Regions from separate parts of the Homo sapiens genome. Here region 1 is linked to region 2. Evidence: fine-mapped expression QTL. Tissue or cell type: aorta. Region 2 holds a variant in brackets; the other region holds the start of a gene. All regions are shown on one strand. Distances are from middle to middle. Region 1 holds the start of JCAD (junctional cadherin 5 associated). Region 2 overlaps JCAD (junctional cadherin 5 associated).

Region 1 (15,355 bases), 30 kb before region 2:
GGGAAGCTTGGAATGTCTTTCTACCACTAGTAAACAGCAGCTCTTTGCTACGGTGAGTGTAACAGAGTTGTTTTCCATTAATATGTGGCTTTACGTGAGAACAAGCTGACACGAGGAGAGCAAACAATTAGAAATGATTTTTCTCATGCAGTAACTATGCAGATTCAATCTCCTCACAGTGGAGGTATAGGATTGAAAAATTGTTTGTCACTCTCTTCTTGGTCCCCAGCATTGTAGGTTTTGTTTCAGTTAGCGTCAAATCTTCTAAGCCAACAGTAAACATCTAATGCACTTGATTAGTGAAGGATGTTGCTATGTGACTCTCCATCATCATACAATGACGTTCACGGCTACTGTCTTTGCACTGTATACTACGTGTCAATCAATCCATTCCTCTCTTGACACAGATCATTTCTATTTATTGTGCTCCATCCCTGCTTCTCACACTTTACTGTATGTGAGAATCATCTGGGCATTTCCTTAAAGTACACATTCCAGGATCTCAAAGGTAGAACTTAGAAATTCTGATTGCATCGGTTTGATGAGGCCCAGGAATTTGGCCTTTAGTCAACTCTCCCTCCCCCAGTTGATCCTGGTGTAGGTGGTCCATGGAGCAGACTTTGAGAAACAGATTTCTAGTTCTTGGTTAAAAATAATTATGCAGGGCTGGGCATGGTGGCTCATGCCTCTAATCCCACCACTTTGGGAGGCCAAGGTGGGAACTTTGCTTGAGCCCAGGAGTTCAAGACCAGACTGGGCAACACAGGGAGAGCCCGTCTCCGCAGAAGATACAAAAATTAGCTGGGCATGGTTGTGTGTGTCTATAGTCCAGTTACTTAGGAGGCTGAGGGAGGAAGATGGCTTGAGCCCAGGAGGTCAAGGCTGCAGTGAGCTGTGATCACACCACTGCCCTCCAGCCTCAATGACAGAGTGAGAGTTCATGTCAAAAAAAAAAAATTATGCGATATAGTCTGTGAATTAATATAAAGCATAGCAATAACTAAAAACAAGTGTTATTAGCACTTGTTGACATAAAATCCTTTCTAGATTTTTTTCAATTTGGCAGCTTTTTATTTATTTATTTAATACATATTAGATGTAGATATTTTCAGGATCCATGTAATAATTTGATAAATTCATATAATCAAACCAGGGTAATAGGGACATCCATCACCTTAAATATTTATCTTTTCTTTATGCTAGGGACATTCAAAGTATTCTCTTCCAGCTATTTTGAAATGAACAATTGGTTAATGTTAACTATAGACACCGTACTGATATATCAAATGCCGGGTCTTATTTCTTCTAAGTGTATATTGTATGTATTAATCAGCTTCTTTTTATCCAAACCCACCCTTCCTGGCCTCTGGTACCCACCAATATACTCTCTATCCTCACAAGATCCTTGCCAGTTTCTGTGTAACCACTATTGCCTGACTTTCTAAAACAAGCCAACAAGAGAGACCTCAAGGTTTTATCGAGAATGTGGGGTTTTGGCCGGGCACGGTGGCTCACGCCTGTAATCCCAGCACCTTGGGAGGCCAAGGCGGGTGGATCACGAGGTCAGGAGTTCGAGACCAGCCTGACCAACATGGTGAAACCCCGTCTTTACTAAAAATACAAAAATTAACCAGGCGTGGTGGCACGTGCCTGTAATCCCAGCTACTCAGGAGGCTGAGGCAGGAGAACTGCTTGAACCTGGGAGGTGGAGGTTGCAGTGAGCTGAAATTACACCACTGCACTCTAGCCTGGGTGATAGAGCGAGACTCCATCTCAAAAGAAAAAAAAAAAAGAGAGAACGTGGGGTTTTTTTGGTCAATGGGTACAAAGTTTCATTTAGGAGGAATAAGTTCTGGTGTTCTATCTCACAGAAGGGTAACTGCAGCTAACAAGTGTATTGTATATTTCAAAATTGCTAGAAGAGAGGATTTTGAATGTTCTCAACCCAAAGAAATGGTAAATGTATAAGGTGATGGCGTATTAGTCCTTCCATTGCTTATAACAGAATACCCGCAGGTGGGTCATTTATAGAGAAAAGAAATTTACTTTTTACAGTTATAGAAATTTATTTCTTGTAGCTGAGAAGTCCAAGGTCAAGCGGCTGCATCAGGTAAGAGCTTTCTTGCAGGTGGGGACTCTGCAGAGTCAACCTAAGGTGGTATAGGGCATCACATGGTGAGGGGCTGAGCATGCTCACATGCTAGCTCATGTCTCTCTTCTTCTTATAAAGCCACCAGTTCCCCGCCATGATAACCCATTAATCCATTAACCCATTAATCTATTAATCCATGAATAGATTAATCCATTCATGAGGGCAGAACCTTCAGGATCCAATGATCTCTTAAAGATCCCATCTCTTGGGCTGGGCGCAATGGTTTTCACCTGTAATCCCACCACTTTGGGAGGCTAAGGCAGGCAGATCGCAAGGTCAGGAGTTCGAGACCAGCCTGGCCAACATGGTGAAAACCCAACTCTACTAAAAATGCAAAAATTTTCTGGGTGCGATGGCACTTGCCTATAATCCCAGCTATTCAGGAAGCTGAGGCAGGAGAATTGCATGAACCCTGACGCGGAGGTTGCAGTAAGCCGAGATCACGACACTGCACTCCAGGCTGGGCAACAGAGCAAGACTCCATCTTGAAAAAAAAAAAGATCCCATCTCTCAACACTGCCACATTGGGGATTAAGTTTCAACATGAGTTTTGGAGGAAACAAATATTCAAACTATAGCAGATGGATATGCTAAACACCCTGATTTAACTATTACAGAATGTATACAAGCATCAAAACATCACACTGTACCCCATAAATATGTACAATTATTATGTGTCAGTGAAGACAACAAATTTTTTTTTTAAAAGAGCGTTAATCTTTTAAAAAATGAGAACTGGTAGTGTCTTTACAGACTAAGAAAAACAAAATCAATATCTAAATCAGCTAAAGGAAACCTTATAGTCTACAGAGAAGGGCCCTAAAGCAGGGAGGGAGGAGGGTTGCTCTAGGTCCTTGAACAGGCAGTAAGTTAGAGAAACAAGATCTTGGCTTTTATTTTTTTTCTTTCTTTAAGCAGGCGGTTAAACATTATTTTTCTGGTTACTGCACATCTGCCCAATGACTCAATAATCCAAGTTCCTTCCTGAGTCTGTGAAATCCCTTCTCCAGGACTCAAGAAAGGCGGGGACATTGGGCATCCAGGGCTGGATCCTGGCACATGCTCCCAGGGCTGTGCCAGACTTCTAACAGCTTCATGTTAAATGCTGTTTTCAATCATAGTTTATATTTTACATCACATAAGCGAGTTTTTTTTTTTTTCCTGTGTTTAAATCTCCCAAGATCAAGTAAGTGGAAGCAAGAGACCCAAATTGCAGGAAAATGGGAGTGGGTAGGGATAAGGGAATTAGGAGGTTAGGCTTGTTTCTCTCACGTCTTGCCCACCATCCCTTGTCCATGTACTGGTGACCGGTGTGGAAACTGGCCCAGTGGATTTTCCTCATTACCTTTTATCTTTATTATCTTCCTACATTTATGATTAATCACCTGCTCATACTCATGCATCTTTTCAACCTTACTCTCTGATATGGTTTGGCTCTGTGTCCCACCCAAATCTCACCTTGGGTTGTAATAGTCCTTACGTGTTGTGGGAGGGACCCAGTGGGAGGTAATTGAATCATGGACGCGGGTTTTTCCCATGCCGTTCTTGTGATAGTGAATAAGTCTCATGAGATCTGGTGGTTTGATAAAGAGTAGTTCTCCTGCACATGCCCTCTTGCCTGCTGCCACGTAAGGCGCGCCTTTGCTTCTCCTTTGCCTTCCACCGTGATTGTGATGCCTCCCCAGCCATGTGCAGCTGTGAGTCCATTAAACCTCTTTCCTTAATAAATTACCCAGTCTTGGGTATGTCTTTATTAGCAGCATGGGAATAGAATAATACACCCTCTTTCCTCTTTGTTAATTCTATTCCCAGATCTTTAGAAAAGCTTTCCACCTTTCTGCTTGCCCCTCTCCCCACATCCACAGCCTCACCACCATCTTCTCTCTCCATCTTTTCATTCTGCTTCTTTGTTTGAAATGGCCTTAGTCATGCCAGGAAAACATTAGAGCAGGGCTAGGGATACATCAGTACTGAGGAAAGACGGAAGCCAAACATTTTGAAATGAGGATGTTAGGATAAAGAGCCAGGGTCAAGAAACTACAAGCATCTTGAAATTGTGAAGTCATCTTCTCTAGAATCTCCAGTATTTCAATCCCATTACATTCCCCTAATTGAATCTGCCTTTGCCAGCCTTTCTGCTAAAATACAATTTCTTATTAAACTTGATTTGGTTTGGTTTAGCTTAGCTCCTAGCATTGAATCAGTGTTGTTTTCTGATTTACTGCAACCCTACTCTGTTGTTTTGCAACTCTACAGCCCTTAGGTACATTATAAAACTTCCATGGGGTTGACCTAGAAACCCAACAATATGACATTGTTCTGTGGGGAAACACATCCTAATCTCAATTCACTGACTGATAAATGTTCTAGCAGGAATACTTGGCTCCCTAGGTGTCTGCACCATGCTGGGCACATAGAGGTGCTCCACCCCAGGACAAAGTTATTTCATTGAGTTGGCAAATTGAGGAGAAACAGGAATTCTATAAGTCATTGAAGAAATCCATCATCGAATGATGCTTTTTTGACAAGAAGTAATATCACTGCTGTTAATAACTGTGACTCCCCAGAAAAAAAAAAAAAAGTCTGCATTTCCTTTTCTATCTTTTAAATTTTGTCGAATCCTATTTTCCCAGCCTTTGTGTCTCTCCCTAGCCACAATCCACTTGTCCTTCAAAGTCTTCCCTGGTGGTTCCAAGTCAAACAGCAGTAGCTGTACAAGTGTTAATGGTAGTAGCTACTATTTTCTTTTCTTTCTTTTTTTTTTTTTTCTTGAGACAGAGTCTCACTCTATTGCCCAGGCTGGAGTGCAGTGGCATGATCCTGGCTCACTGCAACCTCCACCTCCCGGGTTCATGTGATTCTCCTGCCTCAGCATCCCGAGTACCTGGGATTACAGGCACCTGCCACCACGCCCGGCTAATTCTGTATTTTTAGTAGAGATGGGGTTTCACCATCTTACCCAGGCTGGTCTCGAACTCCAGACCTCCGGTGATCCGCCTGCCTTGTCCTCCCAAAGTGCTGGGATTACAGGCATGAGTCACCATGCCCGGCCACCATTTTCTTGACTATTACATGTACCTGAACTAAGTGATAAGAAGGCATCATCTCATTGAATTCTCATGACTCTCCTATGAGATGCAAACCATCATTACCCCCACTTTGTTAGAGAGGAAAGTGAGGCTAACAGAAGTAAAGTACCACATCTAGAAAGTGGCAGAGAAGCCAAGCCCGGGACCTGAGCTACCTGGTTCTCGAGCCCCTAATCATGCTGCCTGCTCCTATCGCCACCATCTGGTTTCCTCCCACGCACTCCTGATAATGCACAATACAACATTCAATTACATTGTTCGTTCTTTTCCAGCAATAGTGTGTTTAGCTTTTATGCTGTGTTAGATTATACGTTGCTACTAACCATGAGGAACATATGATTCAAGAGAACAAAGAAACGACCTTGCTCTGGTGGTTCAGAGCGAGGGTCTTGGGCTAGATTCTGCAGCTTGCCATCTGTGCCCGTCCCTGAGCCCACTCCTCATCTGTAAAGTGGTGCCCATATCATCAAACTGTGATGAGGATTAAAAGAAATAATACATAGGAAGGGCTCAGATGTGGTAATAGAGCAAAAAAAGTTAGTTATTGGTGTTTCGACAGCAAATACAGTCCTAAAATCATGATGTGGCTAAGTAGTTTTCTGAAAACTAATTTGGCAAGGTCACCAGTCTGCTGTGCCATCCATGTTTTGTCTGGGTGGACTTAACTAACATTCCCTGTCTCTCCCCAATGCATCAGCAATATTTCACATTTTTTGTCTTCTGTCTGCCTTCCAAAATTATGAAAACGTTCGCCCTGAGCAGACCCAGGCAGCAGTCTAATCTTTCTGCCCCTTCCCGCTGTAAGAGAAATATGGAGTGGGTTTGGGGTTACCCAAATGACCCCAAATGTTCATTCTGGTCTGAACTCTCCCACTGACCTCCTCCTATCTCTCCTCCTACCCCTGCCCTGTAGGCAAATCCTGCTCCTGTCATCAGTTTCCTCCTCTGCCACAGGAGAGTATGGGCCAGCTGATCTGAAGGTGGCTTCCAGACTCCTTCAGACTTTTTTTTGAAAGAAGTAAATCCCAAGCTGTTGTCACCATCACTGTTTTCTGCTCTTCATAATATCGATGTGTTATGTGGGTGCGTTTGTGTGTGTGTGTGTGTGTGTGTATAGCCATACTGTGTTCCCATGTATGTATGTATATGTGTCAGTGTGTTTGGCTGCATCTGTGCGTGACTGTATATGGGTGTGTTTGTGTGCACCTGCGTGTGACTGTATTTGAGTGTGTGTGCACTTGTCTGTGACTGTGTGTGCACCTGTGTGTCCTGTATATGTGTTTGTGTGCGCCTGTTTCCTGTGAGTGTGTTTGTGTGCATCTGTGTGTGGGTGTATATGAGTGTGTTTGCATACATCTTTGTGTGTTTGTGTGATATGAATATGTTTGCTTTCTGTGTATCTGTGAGAGTGTGTGTGTCTTTGGACATTTCCACAGGGTTGACGTGGCCCAAACCCAAGTGACAAGAAAAGAGGGAATGGTGGTCAGCTCACTTGTGCCTTCTGCGCGACCCACGCAGGCGGACCCCAAAAGCCTAGGAAGCTCGTGGCCTGGATACCGCCCTCAGCGCAGAGGAGGCAGCCCCGGGCGGTGGGCGGGGCGGGCCCGGGCGGTGGGCGGGGCGGACGGCGGTTCTCCGGGCATGCTCGGCCTCGGCGGCTGCAGGCGGGGCGGGTCGCGCTGGTCCCCGGCCGGCCGGAGCGGCGGCGGTGGCGGCGCGAGGCGGCATGAGGGAGCCGCTCGGTAAGTCCCGGCGTCTAACCCTCCTGGCTCCCACCGTCCATTAGGGCCGCTCCCACGGCGCTTCGCGGGCCTCACCCGCAGCCTCCCGCACTCCCCCCAACTTCTCCAGCTGGGACGTCGCTCCGGTTCCAGCCACCCTGGCGGTGGGGGATGTCTGCACCCCCAGTCGCAGCCCCGCCTGGGCCCCCCGCGCGGTGCCTAGCCCGGCAGCCTCGGGGTGGAGGGCGCCTGCCAGCCCGGGAGGGGCGTCCCCTCCCCTCAGGTGCCCCGCTCGGAGCGCGGGGGTCCCGGGGCGGGCACCGCGGGCCGCGGCTGGCGTTAGCGCTCGCGTCGCCCCTCGGCGCGCGGAGGGCCTGGGGGGCCGGGGTCACTCACTCCCCTCTCGAAGTCGCCCTCCCCAGCCTGTGTCCACCAACCCCTCCCGCGCCCTCGCGCCCAGATCTCGCGGACCTCACCCCAGAGCTGACAGCCGCCGCGCTGGGTCCCCGAGGTCCCAGTTCCCACGCTGCCCCGGCCGTCTGGACTGCCCGGGACGGTGGGGGGCTCCCGCCGCGGCCCCGCTCCCGCTCCGGTCTCTGCGCGGTCTGCGCTGGGGATTAGGGCGCTAATCGCAGCTGCCTCCCAGCGAGTGCCCGGGGCCGCCCGGCTCCTGGCTGCGCGTGGGATGGGAGAAGGGCAGGAGCCCCGCCTAGGAGTGCTGTAAATCCCGTTAATTATCTCATTTATGGGATCTGGAACCCGCCCTCCTAGGGTCTCTGCGCTCAGATCTCCGCGGGCACCCTCTACTTCCCCCGTCTCCAGTCGGGGTCCGTTCACCCCCAAAATGCCAGGGTTTGCCTCGATGCCCTGGCCACAGTGGGGCCCAGCACTAGCTGCTAAAAAGCGCCCCTCTCGCTTCCGTCAAGAAGCAGAGCGCCTGGGATTCTTCTGGGCATTTGTAAAGAAGCTGTGATTTCACTACTGAAGAAGAAAATAAAAACGAGAACTTTAGGCCAGCGCTACCTGGGCATGCCCTGGTGTTTGGTCATCCACGCGCTTAAGGAGTAGAGAGGCCTTGGGGGAATTAGCTTGGGCACATCACCTCCCCACACCTACACCCACTCTCCCACCCCCGCACGCACTCCACCCGCCTCCCGTGTCCTCATTCCCTCCCCAAATCTAGTAGCTTGGTCTTAGTCTTGGGGAGAGGGGTGGGGCGGTGCAGACCACACAACTCCCAGGGTTTCCTGTCCTGACAGTTTAATGTGATGTTTCTCCCACAACTTGTTTTCCTTCTCCGGTCTTTTGTCTTTTCAGATTTACAAGGAATAGATAACCCAGAGATTGAGGGCTAGGGTTGCAAAATACAGGGATTTGGGGGAAGGGGCCTGATGGGTAGGATTCGGGCAGCCAGAAATGCTCTGGCAAAAAAAGGCAGTCTGCATGGTGTGAACTGAGGGTCATGGGCTGTACAGGTAAAACTTTGGGAATGTCAGTTCATTTTAGAATTTTAAGACCACCCGGCAAAGCAAGAATGCATACAGGCTTTTTTGGAAATCATATGCAGATTCTATTTCATTGGACTTGTGTTGGTTTTCGTGTGACATTGGGAGTTTGTTAAAGTGGTTTGGTTTTCCATAACGTCTGTGGATTGGGACTTAATTATTTACCTTGACATTAGGTGTCTAATTCTTAGTCACCAGCTTAACAAGCTTCCTGAAGTCTCTAAGTGTCACTGTGGGCATGCAGCATGTAAGAAACTGTTACTCCGCCTGGAGTGGGCGAGCAAATATTTGTTGAACAGAGGCCTTTAATCTGCTGGGCCTTCCTCCTGTAAAACTTCACCCTTTGCTGCAGAGACTGGAAGGTCAGGCCCTTGGCAGGCCCAGGAGAATTAGGGGATTTGGGTGGGTGGAGAAAGCCTGTTTCGGGGAAAAAAGAAGTTTGGCCTGAGTGTCCACATGCTCTGGATGACTTGACAAAGTCATCAGGGTTATCAAATAGCTCATCGAGTGGTCACAGATTCCAGAAGCCTGTGGTCTATTGTTCGGCAGCTATAAAATGTAGCAGGGTTGGAGGTACACAAGGAAAATAAATAAGGACCAATTTTTTCACTTAAAAAAAGTAAATATGAAAAGATTCTTGTAGTCTAATTTTTAACATGCAATTTAAAAATAAATCCTAGAAATGTTATCAGTACAGAAAGCCCAGAAGTCTGTGGCTCCCCCAAGTTCTCACTGGCCAGTTTGGGAGGACAGTAAACACCAGTCATCCTTAGGAGTCCTTAGTTTTTCTTTTAATGAGCTTGGCGAAACTCCATGCTAATTAATCTGGAGAGCGTTTAGAACACAGAGCGTTGGAGTGAAACAATTGTTCTATTGTGTTTTTTATTTTGATAAGCAAAGACTATCTCTCTGAAGTCCTCTGGGCCTATTGCTGAACCCATTACTGCAGTTTACTTGGGTTTTTAACAGATGTTGTTTTTCCTCCTTTGGATGAGAAGGGTTATCTCTCTCATTAAAACCTTGCTCTTGTGCTTTGTTTCAAGGGCCTGCTGATGGAAGGAATGTTGAGGTCCACTGACTTGCAAACGCCAGCAGCCCAGGGAGGGGAGGTGTTGGGCTTTGATATATGCTTTAAACACTAAATGGTGTTTAGAAAAATACAGGAACCCCTCCCCCAGATACTAAAACCTCAATTATCTTGATTTGAATTGAAGATGTCTTGTTAAAAATTTGGATTATCTATAACCAAATATCTTTCCCAACAACTTTCTATAGATATGCTTGGGAATAGCCTGGTTAAATCAATAGGCTGGCAGATTTGTTATCAGATCGTGAAGTATCCTTATAGTTTTGGGCTTATTGGTTGTCTTTATAGTTTACCTGTAAAGATTGTTTTTTCTGTATGTAAATGAAAGAATTTAGATACTATTAGGAAGAAGCACCAAGATACATTCCAAAGAAGGAAAGAAAAAAAAAAAAGCAAGCAACTTGTCTGTGTAGGAAGAATAGTTAGAGAAACAGAAACCAGATTGTTGCTACTGGTTATCTCTTGGCACAGTGGGGTTACTAGGAACTTTTCCTTTTTACTTAAGCACTGAGTTTTGCAGTGTTTACTTTTGAAATCACTTTACATGACTTTTGTACTTAGGAAATAAATAGAAATGTAAAGATCATATGAAATAATTTAAGTCAAACACTTTGATAAAGACTTGGCTTTTTTTTATTCTGAAGATATTTAAAAACAAAACCAAAAGAAGGGTAAGTTTAATGGAATATTTAAGGTATCTTTACATGTGGAGCTTGACATACATGATGATAAGGGAATAAAACTCTAACCTATGATGATGTTTTACAGCTATTTTTGCAAATAGCCAAAAATTCCAAAAGATTTAAAAATCTTATCCAGTTTGAGTCCTTTCTTAATGACTTCTAATCTTTCAGAAATGTTAATGAGGTACTTAAGGTCTCATAAAAATATTGCTAGCCAAAGCAATAATTGTGTGACACAGAATTTAGAGGTGAAAGAGAAGACAGGAGAAAGAGTGTGTGTAAGTGCATGTGTGTGTGTTCACATTAGTTGTGGAAAGAAAAAAAAGAGGAGTCAGAAGGGATAATACTTAGGAAAAAAATTCAGTGCATAATGTTGGGGACTTTTTTCTTTTTCTTTCTCTTTTTTTGAACAAATGCCTTAATACCAATCCACCCCAGCAAGATTAATGTTCCAAGGTCCTTTTGATCTTAGACACAAGTTTTCCAACTCATTTGTTTTTTGTCACCTTAAAGAAACCTAAGGATGTCCTCCTAAAATGATTACTTCACAGATTAAGTATGATTTTTTACATCTTGTGAGATTTTAACAACTTGACTGCCTTGGCAGAGTTGGTCATCACACGTGTGGTATGGTAACAGCAGTCTGTGAGAACTTGGTGTCCCAGGACTTCAACTGGGACTGTTGCGTTATTTAATAATTAAGACTGGAAAGGGAAATAGCAATTCTATTGTTCATAGTAAAATACACAATTCTACCCTTAGGAAAAAATCTGTGGAAAGCATTAAAAACCTACGTGTCAGTTAGCAACATACTCCATTCTGGTTTGTTTTATGTCTTGGTGATTTACCTCTTGTTTAAAGAAAGTACTTTGTTATATATTAATCATAGCATTAGACCTAAATGTTGTCAGTTGAAGAGATATTTACACTGAACTGCCAACAATTTGAGGGACCAATTACATCTTAAGCATGGAATGTCAGTGAATACAACTGAAAAGTTTTAGGTCTTTTAGAGGAGTAACAATGTCTAATTAAGACCTTTTTAGAATGCTGGTTGTAACCTTGTATTAGATTTCTTCAGCAGCACATGTGATTTTGGCTTCCTGAAAACAGGTTAAGAGTCTCTCTGGCAGATAAGGCACATGTACCATATACTAGAGCCTTATGTGATTTACTACTCATTTATTCTTTTCTTCAATGTTTCTTTTATTGTCATTGAGGCTTCCAAATACCTAACCTATTTTTAAAGATGCATTTTCGGCCGGGCGCGGTGGCTCACGCCTGTAATCCCAGCACTTTGGGAGGCCGAGGCGGGCGGATCACGAGGTCAGGAGATCGAGACCATCCTGGCTAACACGGTGAAACCCTGTCTCTACTAAAAATACAAAAAATTAGCCGGGCGAGGTGGCGGGCGCCTGTAGTCCCAGCTACTCCGGAGGCTGAGGCAGGAGAATGGCGTGAACCCCAGGGGGCGGAGCCTGCAGTGAGCCGAGATTGCGCCACTGCACTCCAGCCTGGGCGACAGCGAGACTCCGTCTCAAAAAAAAAAAAAGATGCATTTTCCTCATCTAACCTAAGCAGCATTTCATTTATGAAAGTTTTTTTCTGATGATGAAATAGTTATATATAACTTAATTAAGTTATGTAATATGTTAATATATTAAGTTATGAATAATGATGATTGGTGATGAAACAATATTGTTATATTAAATTATATAATAAGAATGTGGATATTATATATGTTGTTATATATACTTAAGTTAATATTAAGTATATAAAGTTAAGTATAGTAAGTATATGAAATTGCCAATATTTGACTATTTTTGACCTGCAAAATGACAATTTCATATGATTGGACCTAATACATTTCATGACAGAATATCATAAGATTCAGTAAAGTATAAATAAGGAAATTTTTCAAAAACTCAGAGTCCATCACCTCTGCTGACATTTTGGTATGTTTCCTTTCAGTGTTTTTTCCCCTTTCAAGTACATATGTATATAAACAAATTTGGTATGACATTGAATCTAGGGTTCTGTATCCTGTCTTTATTATTTAGCGTGGTATCACGAGCATTTCCCTGTGCTGTTGTATACCTGAAAACATAATTTTATGTATGTGTATACATATTATAGTCCACTATATGGATGCACCAGAATTTTTTTTTGAGATGGAGCCTCATTGTCGCTCAGGGTGAGGTGCAATGGCACGATCTCGGCTCACTGCAACCTTTGCCTCCCAAGTTCAAGCCATTCTCCCACCTCAGCCTCCTGAGTAGCTGGGACTACAGGCGCATGCCACTACACCTAATTTTTCTTGGATTTTTAGTAGAAACGGGGTTTAACTGCGTTGGTCAGACTGGTCTTGAACTCCTGACCTCGGGTGGTCTGCCCACCTCAGCCTCGCAAAGTGCTGGGATTACAAGTGTGAGCCACTGCACCTGGCCCAGAATTTTTTTTTTTTTTACTAAATTAGACATTTAGTCTAATTTTGTTATTATCATAATTAAAACTGGGATAACTATCCTTATACAAAACAGTGTGTATCTCTGATTATTTCATTAGGACAGATCCTAAGAAGTGAGATTATTCCATAGGGTTTCAGATGTTTAAAGATTTTGTTACATATTAATAATTCTTTTCTTTTCTTTTCTTTTCTTTTTTTTTTGAGACAGAGTATCCGCTCTGTCACCCAGGCTGGAGTGTAGTGGCACAATCTCCGCTCACTGCAGTTTCCACCTCAGGTTCAAAGGATCCTCCCACCTCAGCCTACTAGGTAGCTAGGACTACAGGTGAGCGCCACCACGCCTGGCTAATTTTTGTATTTTTAGTAAAGGTGGGGTTTCACCATATTGGCCAGGCTGGTCTCTAACTCCTGACCTCAAGTGATATGCCTGCCTCAGCCTCCCAAAATGCTGGGATCAAAGGTGTGAGCCAGTGAACCTGGCTAATCACTTTTAAGAAGGGAAATACTCATTTTCATTTACATATAGCCTGCACCCCCCACCCCCCACCATTTATACACACACAAACAGGAGAACCCTTATAGCTCCTCATGCCCTTACCAACAACAAGCATTGCTTTTTAAAAGCTTTAATCATCTCATAAGTGAATAATGGCATTTTGGTTTAATTTGCATTTCTTTGATTACAGGTGAGGGTGACCATGCTTTTCATCTTTTTAATAGTATATTTGTCTCTCTTTTTAAAGTTAATTTTTAGTTTGTGTTCTAGGCCAATTTTAAAAAGGAAAAAAGTTCTGGTTGATTTAATGAGTTCCTTAATGTTTTGTTTCCTTTCACTGTCTTGAGCATTATAACTGTAAATATGAGAATTAAAATGCTTATTTTTATAAATGGAAAGGAAGGAGAAGATGGTACCTGTTAAATGGCATTCATTTGCCAGTCCTAACCTTTAGTGATGAGAAGATCCGTAATTGAAATAATACCACCTAGACCATAGCATCGCAAGGGAGGGTGCTGACGGGGTCTTATTTGTCTTTATATTCTTCAGCCCAGTGCCTGGCACTTCCAATGTAAAACAAGTGCCCTGATGAATTTACGTTGGCGTAAGCGTGCAGCACCCGCACTCTGGGATGGAGAATTGCTGGATGTTTCGCTCCTGGCCTGCCTTCCCTAGCCCACTCCTTTCCTCAGTGGGTGGCCATTTATCCCTACTCTCTTGGGTGGCCTCTGCATGGGTGCTAATAAGGCCAAGGTCAGAGGTTCTGTCTTCAGATGACCTATTTAGCCCTGTTCTGTGTCGTGGCCACAAGCTGTACTCTTTTTCCTGGGGCAGCTGACTTCGATGCCTGCTGCTCATCACAGGCGAGAATAGGCTAGAGAAAGGGGCCTGCTTCCTAGAGCTAGAAGGACTCTAAAGAACCTCTAGTTCAGCCTTCTCATTTTACTCCTTCAGGAGAAGACTGAGACCCAAAGGGTTCTCTCCTTTCCTCCTGTGCAGTGACTCAGGCTTGATTCACCTCACAGATAAATACCGTGCACCATGGAGAAACAGACACTCATCCCAACAGCGAAGCGGGAGGTAACCCAGCCCCATGCCCAATGTCAGTGGATCGTTAACAGCAACTTCCTAATTCTATAATCCCTTCCATTTGAATAGACACCATAGAGCTAATATTTAAAGAACTTTGAAAAGGTGCCATGCAATAAGATCACTGCAAGTGGTCTTATTCAGGTTCTTTGGAAGGACAAATCATTAATCTTTGATGAGAATCCATTTGATGATTTGGGGAAAAGAGAATTTTGTGAGACTAGGTTGGTTAAATCAAAATAAAATGAGCTGTCATCTTCTCAAACCAACAATTATTTTCAGTTTCTATATTTCTATTAATGGAATGATCATTATCCTCGTCACTGAGGCTAAAATCCATTGTACTTCTTCTCCTGAAAATTACTCTTATTATTCCTTTTTTTTCTTATCCCCTCTGCCAGCCCCCTGTGCATGTTACAATAGAAAGGACTTGTAACTACAGGTCCCCCATCTGTTCTCGCTCTATCCACTTTAGTCCCCTGCTTTTCTGCCAGATTTCCCTTGCCCAAACCCATTTGTAGTTTGCTGTTGTCTATTCAAATTAAGTCCAAATTCTATTAATGTTGCAGATAAGAATGGCTATTTCTATATAGGACTTTTTTTTTCTTTAAGAATTTATTTTTTTAAAGTTACTCATCTCCCACTTATTATAGATGTCGTTTGTATACATTTCAGTTTCATACAGCAGGCTTTATGATAGCCCCATGTTATTTATGAAAAGCTCAAAACTCCAAATGATGAAAGAGGTCTGTTAAGGTCACAAGGCAATTGCATGGTGTATTCAAGAACGAATCATATTACTGAGCATTTAAACATTAACACCAGCGTTGCCATCAAGACATTATAGCCAAGTGAGGCATCAACTCTTGTGTGTGTGTGTGTGTGTGTGTGCGTGCGTGTGTGCGTGCGTGTGTGCGTGTGGTGTGTGAGAAGAGTCATCTAGAAGAGCCATTCTGCTCCTAGAGAATAAAGGAGAATTTTTTTCCTTTTAAATATATGGTTTTTAATTTTAATGCCACCATGCCTTCTCTCTTAGCTTATTTATGTGTATGGATTATTTGGTAAA
Region 2 (15,355 bases):
CTAGGGTTGGAAAGCAATGGAAAGCAGCAGGCATCTGCTAGACTGCAGATCTGGGAACCAGGAAGGGATCGCTGGATAAAGGCATGGCTTTAATGGGGCCTCCCCAGCCCCACCCCAATGACCACAGCGAAGCATGGCTGACTGGACTTTGAGGGCCCCCACGGGAGGACCAGGCTCAGGATTTTGTTCATGGAGGAGGGAAGGGTAACTGTTTGTCTCACTTCCCACAGAACCCCCAGTTCATTAGGCAGGCAGCAAGCCTCTGGCTGATTTCTTAAGTTAATCCACACATCTATCCCGTGCTCCTGGGTATCAGGCCCAGTGCCAGGCTGCAGCTGCCTGGGTGATAACAAGTCAGTGTGGCTCATGAGGACCTTGGAGGCCACTGAGAAGATGGGGAATGTGAGCCAGTGGTTACAGGCATTCCAAATGTTGCATTTTTTTTGTTTTTTTTTTTTTGAGACGGAGTCCTGCTCTGTACTGCCCAGGCTGGAGTGCAGTGGTGCAATCTCAGCTCACTGCAACCTCCACCTCCTGGGTTCAAGCCATTCTCCTGCCTCGGTTTCCCAAGTAGCTGGGATTACAGGCACCCACTACCACGCCTGGCTAATTTTTTGTATTTTTAGTACAGACGGGGTTTCATTCACCGTGTTGGTCAGGCTGGTCTTGAACTACTGACTTCAGGTGATCCGTCCGCCTCAGCCTCCCAAAGTGCTGGGATTATAGGCGTGAGCCACTGTGCCCAGCCCAAATGTTGCTATTCTAAGGAGAATCACTTTTTAAAAGAAGGGTATCATTTTCCATTGTGGTTGAGAAGGAGTCATGTGAATGAACAGAACTGTCTCCTAATTTTTCTCATAATTAGCTGCTGCATATGCAGTGAATAGACTTGCTCATTTTCTGTTAAACATATTGTTTTTCACATGCTCATATTTCAGATGTTTCCCAAGCAGTTGCTAGTAGTTGTTTCGCTGGCCTCATCTCTCCTGAGATGAGAGATGGGGCTGTTGGCAAGTGTAACTTCTGTTTCATCTCCGTCCCGTTCACCCGGGAATTCTGTGTAAAGACCCTGCTTGTCCCATTGAACTCATGGACACAATTTGTCTGGGCGATCACATTCCACTTTGCTTTCCTTATCTTTTTCCCACCCTGTGTTAATGTGTTCAGCATGTTTTCCTAGAAGTGCCATTGTTAATGTCTTTTAAAATGTAAGATAATTAGTTTCATTTTTCTAAAAAGAAAAATTTGATCTCATTTCCTTAAACATATCAGAAAATATATTTTTGGCTTTGAAACCCTATGCAGCAGTACACATTTTAGCTGGTAATGGGCGTCCTATAGCGAAGCTACTAGAAGAGCCATTCTTGCTAACTTGTCTGAAGGAGAAATCTACCAGAGCGACCCCCATGGGGAGTCCGCTTGCACCTGTCAGAGCCCAGCCCTTGCTAGGTACAAAATAGATGTTTATTAATTAAATGGTTTATAGTTTTCTATGTCATGTGGACTGCGTTGCAAAGTAGATAATTTAAAATTTCCCGGATGACCTGTATTTTTATTAAATTGGAATTTTGGCACCTTGTGCAAACAGAAGGAAGTTTAACCCAAAATTCTTAGTTATTTTGGTTTGTTATATATGGCAGTTTTGACAAAGTTAAAGTGATAGTGTAACATTTTTGGGTGGAGAAGAAAACCAACCACGCTCCCTCTGTAGGAAGTGACAGGCTGTTTGTATTCTTGTCCTATTTCTGTCATTTTTTATCTGTCTTCTGATTATGCTCGTGGCGTGTACTTGCACAAGTAGCACCTTAGGATTTTAGCCCCTTCTCTAAGCACACTGTGAAACCCGAATATCAATTGAGAAAAACGCGTCAAAGCCACACGGTACGGTTTCCTCCCTAAAGTCATGCAATCCAGGAAAGCGTTCACAGGACTGTCAGGAATGAGAACGGTGCTTCATAAAAGCCTACTCACCATCAGCCTAAGAGCAGAGGTAAGAGGGTAGATTGTTTCTGATGCAAAGCACCAACCGCATACTTCCTAATGATTTCTTTTAGCCTTTCACAGTGGGGTGTAACAATTGTAATGCCTTATTACATGGTAGTTTTTAAGTCTTGCCCTTGGATTTTCTATAGAGTCTGGGAGCCTATAGACAGTAGGTGCTGAAGACTTTTCAGTGGTTCATGTTCTACAGCATTTCTCAGGCTACTGATGGGCGGTCACACAGGAGTCCCCAGGGGAGGACTCTGTGGCTTCTGGAGCTGCAAGCCTGGCTCAGCTAAAGTGGGGAGGGAGGGAGGAAAGGGGCTATGCAGAGGGGCCAGTGACGATGGCTTTCAAAATGACTAATCTGTGTCGAACCTGACCAGGAAGCAGTCTTCTCAGCATTCAAAACCCAAATGCTCAAAACATAATTTCAATGACAACAAAAGCAACACAGAAATTGTGACCTCCTACCGTGCCCGGTGTTAAGACAGTACAGGTCTTATACCATGTACAGGTCGTTAACACAGAAGCATTGAGGCTGCTCAGTGGCAAATGTCTTACCTCAGATTGATTTTGGATATTTTCTGGTTTTCCAGCCCATAACTAAGCTTTGCTGTAAATGACTGCCTAACAAGTTAACAGGGGGTAGAAGTAGATACAGAATTATTGTTATTATCATTATTATTATTATTATTATTATTATTGAGATGGAGTCTTGCTCTGTCGCCCAGGCTGGAGTGCAGTGGCATGGTCTCAGCTCACTGCAACCTCCTCCTCCCGGGTTCAAGCGATTCTCCCACCTCAGCCTCCCGGGTAGCTAGGATTACAGATGCCCGCCACCACACCCGGCCGATTTTTATATTTTTAGTAGAGACAGGGTTTCACTGTGTTGGCCAGGCTGGTCTCATACTTCTGACCTCAGGTGATCCACCCACCTCAGCCTCCAAAGCGCTAGGATAACAGGCATGAGCCACTGCACCCGGCCTTGGATACAGAGTTTGAGGGGCTATCCTTACCTTTTAAGGCAAAGAGGTAATTCCAAAATAAGAATAGTAGCAATAAAAATAGAAGTTTTTACCAGGGCTCCTGCCCACAGCCTTCTGCCTCTGTGATTGGAAGGGCTCTCCTGCAGCCCAGGCCCCAGCAGGGACTCTTCCAGGCTTCACGCACTGTTGCTGCATAGAACTGGTGGCCTTGCACCTCCCAGTTTCATGTTGTGTTCACTCTGCTGTGCCACCAGCTGAAAAGCAGACTGTGTTGCTGGAATCATTCGAAACCACAAAATGTATAATAACACCTAAGCACATGGGGAAAAAGAAATCGACCTCACTAGTAATCAAAGAAATGCAAATTAAAGTAGTGAGAAGTTATGGGGAAAAATAGTTGTAATAACTAGGGATGAAAAGGTTCAGCAAGACCGGCTCTCCTCTGCACGACAGGAGGGACTATAAATTGGATAGTTTATCTAAGGTCAGTTTGACAACATGCATCACACAACACCCCATGATCTACTCACTTCTTTTCTAAGGACTTACTCTAAATGATCTGAGACCTACATCACGTGTTTGTGAACAATAGTGTTTTTCAAAGTGTTTTAGAATAGAATCCACATCAATGTCCAACACTGGTAAAGGGTTAAGTAAATCCTGTGTGTGTGAGGGAATACAATTCATCCATGAACATTAAGCACCTGAGGGCGTTTTCATTACACTGGAAGAAGTAAAATGCAGGGTTAATTGAGCGTTTTAGGTTCACATTTCTTGGCTTAGAGCTCTTTCACAAATCCTTGCAGGCTGTGTAACTTGGGGAAATCATTTAACCTACCTGTGCCTCAGTTTTCTTATCTGTAAAAGCGGGAAGTAGTGGTAATTATAACGTTGAAATGAAATAATTCACTTGGCATGCTTAGCACCATGCATGGTACAGCATGGGTGCCCAGTAGATGTTAGTATTAAGCAAGTTACTTAACACCTGTGCCTCAGTTTCCTCCTCTGTAGAGTGGTATTGACAGTAGCTTCTACCTCAGAAGGATGTTGGTGAAGCTTAAATGAGTTAGTTTGCAGAAAGCACATGGCTTGGACCTAGCACACAGCAACCACCGTGTAAGCAGCTGCTGCTGTTTGTGCTACAAGTGTCAGGAAATGTTCACATAATACCAGATATCTAGTAGAATACCCAGGCTGTTCAAAAATTCACATCCTCACACACACACACAGGTGAGAAGATATGTATCAAAGTAACCATCTCTGAGTAGAAAGAGTATAAGCAATTTTTGTTTTTTGTACTTTTTTATATTCTTCCAACATTCATTTTCAACAATGAATCCATTACTGTAATAATTTAAAAAGCAAACAGCTATCCTAGACTTGAAACATTTTTCAAGTCAGCCCGGCCCATGGTTAATCAAAACTGTTGAGTCCCCTGAACTTCCTTCCAGTTAATGGTTTTTCCCTATTACATGGCCCTAGTCTCTGATCATTCATGGGTAGTAGCTTAATATTTCTGCACATTATGTTCTTCAGATACTTTCCTTTGGTTGCATTAGAACTGTGATTCTGAACTCTCCCCGCATGCTAGAGTCATTTGGGAGATTTTGAAATATACTGGCTCCTCATTAGACCAATTAAATCCAAATATTTGGAGATGGGCCCTGAGCTTTGGTATTTTTTAAAGGCTCACAAGGAAATCCTAATGTGTGGCCCAGTAGTGAACAACACCCTGCATTTGATACTACCATTTCCTGCCTTGCAGAGAGTTTCACCCCATGAACAGGGCTCCCCTCTTCCTCTAGACAATCTCAATGTAAGCCCTAGCAGTGTTTCCCAAAATTGAGGATAAGAATCCTCTGAAATGCTTGTTAAAAATACAGATGGAGCCGGGCGCGGTGGCTCACGCCTGTAATCCCAGCACTTTGGGAGGCCGAGGCGGGCGGATCACGAGGTCAGGAGATCGAGACCATCCCGGCTAAAACAGTGAAACCCCGTCTCTACTAAAAATACAAAAAATTAGCCGGGCGTAGTGGCGGGCGCCTGTAGTCCCAGCTACTTGGGAGGCTGAGGCAGGAGAATGGCGTGAACACGGGAGGCGGAGCTTGCAGTGAGCCGAGATCCCACCACTGCACTCCAGCCTGGGCGACAGAGCAAGACTCCGTCTCAAAAAAAAAAAAAAAAAAAAAATACAGATGGGGCTGGGCGCAGTGGCTCACTCCTCTAATCCCAGCACTTTGGGAGGCCGAGGTGGGCGGAAGACTTGAGGTCAGGAGTTGGAGACCAGCCTGGCCAGCATAGTGAAACCTCGTCTCTACTAAAAATACAAAAATTAGCCGGGTGTGGTGGCAGGTGCCTGTAATCCCAGCTACTCGGGAGGCTGAGGCACAAGAATTGCTTGCACCCAGGAGGCGGAGGTGGCAATGAGCCGAGATTGTGCCACTGCACTCCAGCCTGGGCGAAAGCGAGACTCAGTCTCAAAAAAAAAAAAAAAAAAAAAAATACAGATGGGCCAGGCATGGTGCTTCATGTCTGTAATCCCAACACATGAGGAGGCGGAGGTGGGAGGATTTCTTGAGGCCAGGAGATCAAGGCCAGACTGGACAACACAGCAAAACCCCATCTCTACAAAAACATCTTAAAAATTAGCAAGACATGATGGAGTGCCTGTAGTCAGTCCCAGCTACTTGGGAGGCTGAAGTGGAAGGATTGCTTGAGCCCAGGAGTTTGAGGCTGCAGTGAGCCATGATTACACCACTGCACCTAGCCTGGGTGATAGAGTGAGACCCTGTCTCAAAAATAAATATATAAATAAAAATATAAATACAAATGCCTGGGCCCTAACCCAGACCTACCAAGTCTGAACTTTCAGTGGGAGAGACTTGGTAATGTGTATATTTTACAAGCCCACTGGGTGATGCTTACCATCAGAGAGATGAGGGGACTCTGCTAGAGACATCTTTCTCAATCTTGGCTGCACACTGGGAATCTCCGGGGACACTTGGAGAGTCTCGGATGCCTGATTGCCTCGCCCTCCATTTACCACCCACACGTCTTAAGATTGTAATGTAATGTGTCTAGGATACTGCCTGGCATCTGGATTTTTGAAGTCTTCCTGGATTCTAATGTGCAGTCAGGGTGAACAACCACCAGCAATGATGATTCTCAAAGTAAGGCCCTGGGACCAGCAGCATCAGCATCATCTGGGAACTTGCAGATTATAGAGCCCCTCTCCAGACCCGCCAGATGAGAAGCTGGGGATGGGACCCAGCAATCTCTCTCTTAGCAATTCCAGGACTCAGTGATTCTGATTCTCACTAAAGTTTCAGAACCCTTGCTTAAAAACAGTGTTTTTAAAAGCAGGTTCCCAGATTCCCTCCCAGAGATTGCACAGGAGGTCTGGACTGAGCCGGCAATATGCTGCAAGTGGTCCAAGACCACACCTTGAGAAATACTACTGAACAGTTAACCCTTGTTCCCTTGGGCATTTTTTTTTCCTTATGAGGCAGGGTCTCACCGCTGCCCGGGCCGGAGTGCAGTGGCGCAATCACAGCTCACTGCAGCCTCGAACTCCTGGGCTCAAGCAATTCTTCTACCTCATCCTCTGGAGTTGCTGAGACAGGTGGGCACTACCATGCCTGGCTGATTTTTAAATTTTGTGTAGAGACAGAGTCTTACTATGTTGCACAGGCTGGTCTCAAACTCCTGGCCTCAAGAGATTCTCCCAGCTTGGCCTCCCAACGTGTTGGGATTACAGGCATGAGCCACGGTGCCCGGCCTTCCACCAGACATTTTAATGTTTATAAGGACCTTGACATCGCTGGAGTACACCCAACATCCCTGTATTCTTGTGGGCTGCCCACTGCTGCCCCTTCTTGGCCCTTGATGCCAAAACACGTGGCTGTCTTCCAACCATAATTAATGGGATATGTTTTCTTTCAAGCTGGCAAGTACTGTGGCTGGGAACCAAGTTTTCAAAGTTGCTGACCTGAGTTTGACTTCGAATGCCAGTCACAGAAGCAGATGAAGACATGTTTCTTCTGTGCCTAACGTCTGTGACTCTTTGTTTTGTAGGTTTTGTAATCAACCCCCCTCAGCATGGTCCTCTCATCCCCCGACTGGTAACGACCAAGCCTACCGGAGAAGAGGACGGCAAGAAGCCAGGAGCCAGAAGCCGAGGGAGCACGAAAACCTGGAGGCCAGAGGAATGGCCCAAGCCCACAGCCTGCCTGTCCACGTGAGGGAGGGTCCATGGGAAGTTGGAGGAAGGTCAGAGCATGTGATGAAGAAGCCAGTTTGGGAAGAAGAATTGCGAATGTCAGGTCCTGCCAAGTGGCAGAACGTCAGCCTGGAAAGCTGGAACCAGCCAAGGAAATTAGGGAGGCAGATGTCTGATGGAGATGGGGAGAGACTGTTTCAAGACCTGTACCCATTCATTCAAGGAGAACATGTGTTGAATTCTCAAAACAAAGGGAAGTCTCGCTCACTGCCTAGAGTTCTTTCCCCCGAGAGCCTGAGTTGCACGGAAATTCCCATTCCATTAAATGAAAGACATTCACCTAAAATGCCACCGTATCCTCCCACTTGCGCACCAAATTTGGACTCCACGAGGAATTCTGAGAAGAGTGGCTGCTCAGCCCCATTTCCCCGGCCTAAGTTTGGGAGGCCCCTCAAGCCCCCATCTTACAGCTCGCACCAGCAGTCTAGGGGAGGAGCGGACAGCAGTGACTCTCAGGACAGCCAGCAGATGGACGCCTATGTCCCCAGGCATGAGCTCTGCCTGTCAGACCCTGGATTGGAACCTCCAGTGTACGTGCCTCCGCCCTCATACAGATCGCCCCCGCAGAACATCCCAAACCCCTACTTGGAAGACACGGTGCCCATAAATGTGTGTGGCGGTCACAGTCAACAGCAGTCTCCGACCGAGAAGGCTGGGGCCAGCGGTCAGCCTCCTTCAGGCCCCCCTGGAACTGGGAATGAGTATGGTGTGAGCCCCCGCTTGCCTCAGGGGCTCCCCGCACATCCCCGACCTGTCACTGCCTATGACGGCTTCGTTCAGTACATTCCCTTTGATGATCCACGGTTACGACATTTTAAACTAGCTCAGCCCCAGGGTTTCTGTGAAGACATAAAGCTTGACGATAAATCATATAACTCCAGTCCTGTCACTGCTCAAGAGCCGGCTCATGGAGGAATGCAGCCTGATGGTGCCATTTGGAATCCACAGAGCTTAATACCCCCGTCGGGGGATGAGAGAGGCCTGGTCTTGGCCGATTCCAGCCCCCGGTGGCTGTGGGGCCAGCCCCCCGGGGATGGGGAAAACAGTGGCCTCCCCAACCAGAGAGACCGCTGTGTGGCAAGGGGACAGTGGCCTGATGTGAGAGGCAGCCAGCACGGGCACACTGGAAGACAAGTTTCCTCCCCTTACTCACAGGGCGAGAGCACCTGCGAAACTCAAACCAAGCTCAAAAAGTTCCAAACTGGGACTCGGACCAAGAAAAGTTCAAAGAAAAAAATGAACGAGACTATATTTTGCTTGGTTTCTATCCCAGTGAAATCAGAATCACATCTGCCAGATAGAGATATGGACAACAATGACTTAAAGCCCAGTGCTGATCAAAAGAATGGGTCTGATAAGAGCCCGGCTCTGCAAGAACAGAGTCTGCTGAGCATGTCTTCCACCGACCTGGAGCTGCAGGCCCTCACAGGAAGCATGGGTGGGAGAACGGAGTTCCAAAAACAAGATCTAGGGGAACCAGAAGAAGACAGACAAACAAATGACCTCAGTTTCATCCA[C/T]CTTACAAAGCACAGAGAACTCAAGCATTCTGGCTCTTGGCCAGGGCACCGGTACAGAGATCAGCAAACACAAACCAGTTTCTCCGAGGAGCCCCAAAGTTCGCAGCTGCTCCCTGGTGCAAAGCTGGGAGGGCCGAGTCGTGCAGCATTGAGTCCAAAATGTTCAGACCCTGCTGCCTCCGAAGCTCAGACGCACACAGCATTCCCTACCGGTGATCACAAACAGAGGCCAAGTGCCCGTAACCTGAAAGGTCACAGGTCCCTCAGCCCATCCAGCAACAGTGCGTTCTCAAGGACTTCCTTGTCCGTGGACCAGGCACCGACGCCAAAAGCAGGCCGAAGTCAGCCCTGCGTGGATGTCCACGGGCTTGGAGCCCACCCTGGGCCTAAGCGGGAGGTGGTGAAGGGGGAGCCCACGGGCCCTTGCAACAGTAAACAACTCTTTGGGCAGTTTCTCCTGAAACCGGTCAGCCGTCGTCCCTGGGATTTGATCAGTCAGTTAGAAAGTTTTAACAAGGAGCTCCAGGAAGAGGAAGAAAGCAGCAGTAGCAGCAGCAGCAGCAGCAGCAGCAGTGAGGAGAGTGAGGCGGAGCCGCAGCAGGAGAACCGTGCTCACTGCAGACAGGAGGATGTGGGCTTCCGCGGAAACAGCCCGGAAATGAGGGTTGAGCCACAGCCGAGGATGTGGGTGCCGGAGAGCCCTGTGTGTAGGTCGGGAAGAGGTGAGAGTAAGTCTGAGAGCTGGAGTGAGGAGCTGCAGCCTGGCCACCCACGTGCCTGGCCTCCATCCCCGGGCCGCTTTCGCGTGGAAGAAGGTGGCGGTGCACCTTTCTGCTCAGCAGATGGAAGCACGAGTGCAGAGAAGAGACACCTGGAGGTTAGCAACGGAATGGACGAGCTGGCAGGTAGCCCATTTCCTGTGACGAGAATGTCTTCAAGATCAAGTGACGCAAAACCACTGCCCGCGTCCTATCCAGCTGAACCTAGGGAGCCCCAGGAAAGTCCGAAAATCACCAGTGCTTTCAGCTCTGTGAAACCAAGTGAAGCGGTCCCTCGGAAGTTTGACAGTGGTGGAGAGAGGGGGGCAGGGCTCCCACTGTCCCTGTCTAACAAGAACCGAGGGCTCTCAGCTCCAGACTTACGGTCTGTGGGGCTCACCCCTGGGCAAGAACAGGGTGCCAGTGAGCTAGAGGGGTCTTTGGGTGAAGCAAGCACAATAGAAATCCCCCCAGGTGAGTCCTTGCAAGCCAGGGCTGCAAGGATCCTGGGCATTGAGGTGGCGGTGGAGTCCCTCCTGCCGGGCATCCGGAGAGCGGGACAGAACCAGCCTGCTGAGCCCGATGCAAGTGCCTGCACCCCAGAGTCCCCCCAGGAAGAGTTGCTATCTCGCCCAGCACCGGCAGATGTCCCCAGGGTGTCCACTGATGCCTTTTATGGCAGGAGGAAGTGCGGCTGGACCAAGAGCCCTCTCTTTGTAGGGGACAGGGACAGTGCCAGGCGGGCTCCTCAGGCTTTTGAGCACTCAGATGTGGACGGGGTTGTCACCAGCACAGACCCTGTCCCTGAGCCTGAGCCCAGCCCCTTGGAGTCCAAGTTCTTCGAACAAAAGGATGTGGAAACAAAACCACCCTTCAGGTCCACTTTATTCCATTTTGTAGAAAGAACCCCAAGTGTGGCAGGCTCTGAAAAGAGACTTAGAAGCCCTTCCAAAGTGATTGAAAGTTTACAAGAGAAACTGGCCTCCCCGCCTAGGAGAGCAGACCCTGACCGCCTGATGAGAATGAAAGAGGTGAGCTCAGTGTCACGGATGAGAGTCCTGAGCTTCAGGAATGCCGACTCCCAGGAGGACGCCGAGGAATTGAAGGCCACCACAAGGGGCCAGGCCGGGCTCCCGGGAGGCCTTGTGTCTCCTGGCAGTGGGGACCGTGCCCAGAGATTGGGCCACTCACTCTCTGTGTCCAAGGACAGCATCTCCAGGGAAGAGAAGGAGCATCCGGCAGCACAAAAGGAGAAGAGCATGGATCAAGACTTCTGGTGCCCAGGTGAGGAATCAGGCAGACAGGCAGGTGCTCAGTATACATTTGGAGTTTTTAGTCAGTACAAAATACCAGGTTGGTGGATAATGTAAATCTGCATATTCAGAAAAGATCAAGTTGACCCTGGGAATTGTTTTATCAAAAGATTCCTCATTTTCGAAGAATTATCCAGAAGCCATCTTTAAAATTCAAGATCTTGCAGTATATTTTATTTTTTTGAGATAGTATCTCACTCTGTCGCCTGGCTGGAGTGCAGTTGTGCAATCTCTGCTCACTGCAACCTCCGCTGCTTCCTGGGCTCAAGTGATCCTCCCACCTCAGCCTCCCGAGTAGCTGGGGCCACAGGCATGCACCACCATTTCCAGCTAATTTTTTAATTTTTTTATAGAGACGAGATCCCACTATGTTACTCAGGCTGGTCTCGAACTCCTGAGCTCAGGTGATCAGTAGAAGAGTTGAGATAAATGTCAAAAGATCCACATCATAAGCCATGGACTGGAAGGGACCTTCTGTCATTTAGTCTAAGCCTTTTCTCCCTCCCCTCCCCTCCCCTCCCCTCCCCTCCCCTCCCCTTCCCATTTTTTTCTTTTTGAGACAGAGTCTCACTCTGTTCCCCAGGCTGGAGTACAGTGGCACGATCTCGGCTCACTGCAACCTCCGCCTCCTGGGTGCAAGCGATTCTCCTACCTCAGACTCCTGAGTAGCTGGGACTACAGGCGTGTGTCACCAGGCCCAGTTTATTTTTGTATTTTTAGTAGAGATGGGGTTTCGCCATATTGGCCAAGCTGGTCTTGAACTCCTGACCTCAGGTGATCCACCCACCTTGGCCTCCCAAAGTGCCAGGATTACAGGCGTGAACCACTGAGCCCGGCCCAGTCCAAGCCTTTTACAGTAAGGGGAAAAGAAAAACTTGGTCCTTACGAGTTGAGTTAGAGGAATGCCCTCTCCTGAGCTGGGCCCTTCCCTCTTCCTACCCAGTCTCCAGCAGGTGGTTCTGCTCCTCCCACCCCTTTCTATTTTCTGTTTTGAAACCCAAGAATTTTGAAGCAGATAGAAAAGAGCTGTTGTTTCAGTTGGAAGTAGTCAGAGATTTCTATTGAACAAAAAAATGTAGGGCCGGGTGCTGTGGCTCAAGCCTGTAATCCCAACACTTTGGGAGGCCGAGGCGGGTGGATCACGAGGTCAGGAGATCGAGACCATCCTGGCTAACCCGGTGAAACTCCGTCTCTACTGAAAATACAAAAAATTAGCTGGGCGTGGCGGCGGGCGCCTGTAGTCTCAGCTACTCAAGAGGCTGAGGCAGGAGAATGGCGTGAACCTGGGAGGCGGAGCTTGTGGTGAGCCGAGATTGTGCCTCTGCACTCCAGCCTGGGCGACAGAGCAAGACTCCGTCTCAAAAAAAAAAAAAAAAAAAAAAAAATGTACATGGGCACTCTCAAGTTTCCCCCAAATACAGTGGGATTCTTAGGGGTGTTAGCCAGTGTTGCTTCTCTGCTCCTTATGCAAAACACATGATTGAAATAATCCTTCGTCGGGGCCCCGTTGGATCCTCTAGTTGGACAAGCTGGGCCTTTGCAGTGGTAGAGAATACTGAGAATGTGAAGGCTTTGCCATTATGGTAGGAAAAGGGTTACCTGCCCATTTTTTGAGCTTTCTGGATTTATTGTAGCCTTCAGCATAATTCCTCTGCAGTCCCCCTTCCTCCTCAAAAAATATGCCCACTAGACTTTAAGGTTAGTTAAAACTTGTCATAGACTTCTAAAGCAAGTTTTCTTCATCTATAAAATCAGGATGATTTTCTCAGTCCTACATCTTCCTGAAAATTGTAAGGAGTTTAAAATAAGACAAATAAATCCTGTTATAATACAGTACCAGTTGGTAAATATTTCTGTGTCTCAGTTCATGGAAACCTATTTCAGGAAGGTTTTTTGTTTTGTTTTGTTTGAGACAGAGTCTCACTCTGTGGCCCAGGCTGGAGTGCAGTGGCATGATCATAGCTCCCTGTAGCCTTGAACTCCTAGGCTCAAGCGATTGTCCTGCCTCAGCCTCCCAAGTAGCTGGGACTACAGGCATGCATCATCACACTCAGCTATTTTTTTAGTTATTTGTAGAGATGAGGTCTTGCCTACACTGCTCAGGTTGGTCTTGAATTCTTGGCCTCAAGCAATCCTCCTGCCTCAATTATGGTGCCCAGTCTAGGGAGTATTTGATAACACAAAATTTCCAGTTCAGAAAAGCACTCCTTCAATTTTTAACTTGACTATTTAGTGTGAGAAGGTCCAGTAGGTATCTAAAAACACCCAGGTAATGCAAATTTTAATTTTAGCCAGTTATTAACAACACCTCCCTCATGACGTTTTTGGGTTTTTTTTTTAACCACTGCTACTAACAAGCAGAAAATTTAATTATTTTTTTCTCCTCTCCATCTGATGCATTTGCTAATATACAATAAAATGGCCAAAAATCTGCAGGCAGAGAGCCACTCATGTTGACAGCTTCCTCGGGCATTTTCAAGTACAGTCATGCGTCGCTTAATGGGGCTGCACTCTGAGAAATGCATCATTAGCAGTTTTGTCATTGTGTGAACACCATAGAGAGTGCACTTCTACAAACCTAGATGGTAGAATCTACTACACACCTAGTCTTCATGGTAGAGCCTATTGGTCCCAGGCTGCAAACCTGTACAGCCTGTTACTGTATGGAATACTGCAGGCAATTGTAACGCAATGGAAAGCATTTGTGTATCTAAACATATCTAAAGAAAAGGTACAGGCCGTGCGTGGTGGCTCATGCCTGTAGTCCCAGCACTTTGGGAGGCTGAGGTGGGTGGATCACTTGAGGTCAGGAGTTCAAGACTGGTGTGGCCAACGTGGTGAAAACCTGTCTCTACTAAAAATACAAAAATTAGCTGGGTGTAATGGCAGGCACCTGTAATCCCAATTACTTGGGAGGCTGAGGCAGGAGAATTGCTTAAACCCGGGAGCCAGAGGTTACAGTGAGCTGAGATCGCGCCATTGCACTCCAGCCTCAGCAACAAGAGTGAAACTCCATCTCCAAAAAAACAAAAAGAAAAGGCACAGTAAAAATATGGCATAAAATATTAAAAAAAAAGAAAGGACCACTTTTGTAGGGCACTTACCATGAATGGAGCTTGCAGGACTGGAAGTTGCTCTGGGCAAGTCAGTGAGTGAGTGGTGACCGAATGTGAAGGCCTAGAAAATTCCTCTACACTACTGTAGACTTTATAAACCCTGTACACTTAGGCTACACCACATTTGTTTAAAAATTGATTGCACTATGACATGACGTCACTAGATGACAGTAATGTTTCAGCTTCATTATTATCTTATGGGACCACTGTCATCTATGTGGCCCGTCATTGACCAAGATGTTGTTCTGTGGCGCATGACCATAATCGGAGGGGAGAGCACCATTAGGGACGATATCTTACATTTGTTTTGCTCAGGTGGCCCCCTGTGGGCCTTTCATGTGATGGTCACCAGGCCTCAATATTCAAAACCACTCGTCTTGAGAGCAACTGAGGTCATATGATGGAGGTAGTAATACTTTTGACGTATGTCCACTTTTCCGCTCACTGTTGCTTCACAAGTTAGAGTAAAGCCTTGTTGTTAAGTCACTGAGAAGCGCTTGGACTTTGCTTTCCTTTTGATGTATTTAATCATTTTAAACATAAGAATCCTCATCTCTTCCCCACTGCACTGCTGCCCCCATGACCCCAGCATGCTAGAACTGCTTCATTGCTCCTAAATTTGTAGCCCATTTAAATTCAAGCATCTGTTCTGGCACTGTAACACAAGGCCATGCCATGTCTATCCGCACCACCCCACCCTACACACACACCCTTGTGCCGTGCCTGTCATATCATCAAGTGTCTTGAGATTAAAGTTGGTCGTTTCAGCTCACATGTCTTTAGTGGTCTTTCATGCCTCTGGTTAAGAAATCAACAGCCCAAAACGAGTTCGGGTCACAGACTCCCATCTTTGCTGGATGACTGATGCTCCAATTCGGAAGTGTCATCCCAGGCATTGATCGTACACAGAACCTCCTGGTTCCATCATCCTCTGTTGCAAACTCTGTTAATATGAGTCCAGGGGAAGAATGAGAAGAGATATCTGTGTGAGGCCCAAAATGAGGGAAATCGGGGAAGGCTTCATGATACCAGATCATGCCATGAGAAGGCTAGATGTTAGCACATCTCTGAGGGCGTTAATGTGTGAAATACCCACCAGGGCAGTCCTCAGTGAGTTGTCCTCAGCTGAAATGGAGCCCACAGGAAACAGGATTCTAAATTCTCCGGGTAACCACCCTACCCTCTAGACCTGTGCTGTCCAATATTGTAGCCGCTCATCACATACAGCTACTGGGCACTTGAAATATGGCTCATGCAAATTGAGATGTGCTGTAAGTGTAAGATACACACCAGATTCCAAAGACTTAGTACAAAAAAAGAATCTAAAATGTCTCAATAATTTTTATATTGGTTACATATTGAAATGATATTTTGAATATATTTGGTGAAATACAGTATTAAAA

What was found.
Region 1: it holds the start of JCAD, and the variant in region 2 is fine-mapped to the expression of JCAD in aorta (GTEx, PIP above 0.99).

What each region holds. Positions count from the first base shown.
Region 1 is chr10:30,051,110-30,066,464 of GRCh38, reverse strand. It overlaps JCAD (junctional cadherin 5 associated), which reads left to right and starts at 6,879. Exons shown (of 4, transcript NM_020848.4): 1 at 6,879-6,983. It overlaps LOC101929256 (a long non-coding RNA gene), which reads right to left and starts at 7,627. Exons shown (of 4, transcript XR_001747405.2): 1 at 7,439-7,627. RefSeq lists silencers at 3,031-3,325, 6,767-6,936 and an enhancer at 9,221-9,758.
Region 2 is chr10:30,021,555-30,036,909 of GRCh38, reverse strand. JCAD (junctional cadherin 5 associated) reads left to right here. Exons shown (of 4, transcript NM_020848.4): 3 at 7,044-10,807. Among named protein-coding and RNA genes, the nearest start is that of JCAD, 30 kb to the left of the region's middle. RefSeq lists enhancers at 1,721-2,317, 7,085-7,813, 7,814-8,543, 9,262-9,331, 9,512-9,571. The variant C/T (reference allele first, on the strand shown) is at 8,766.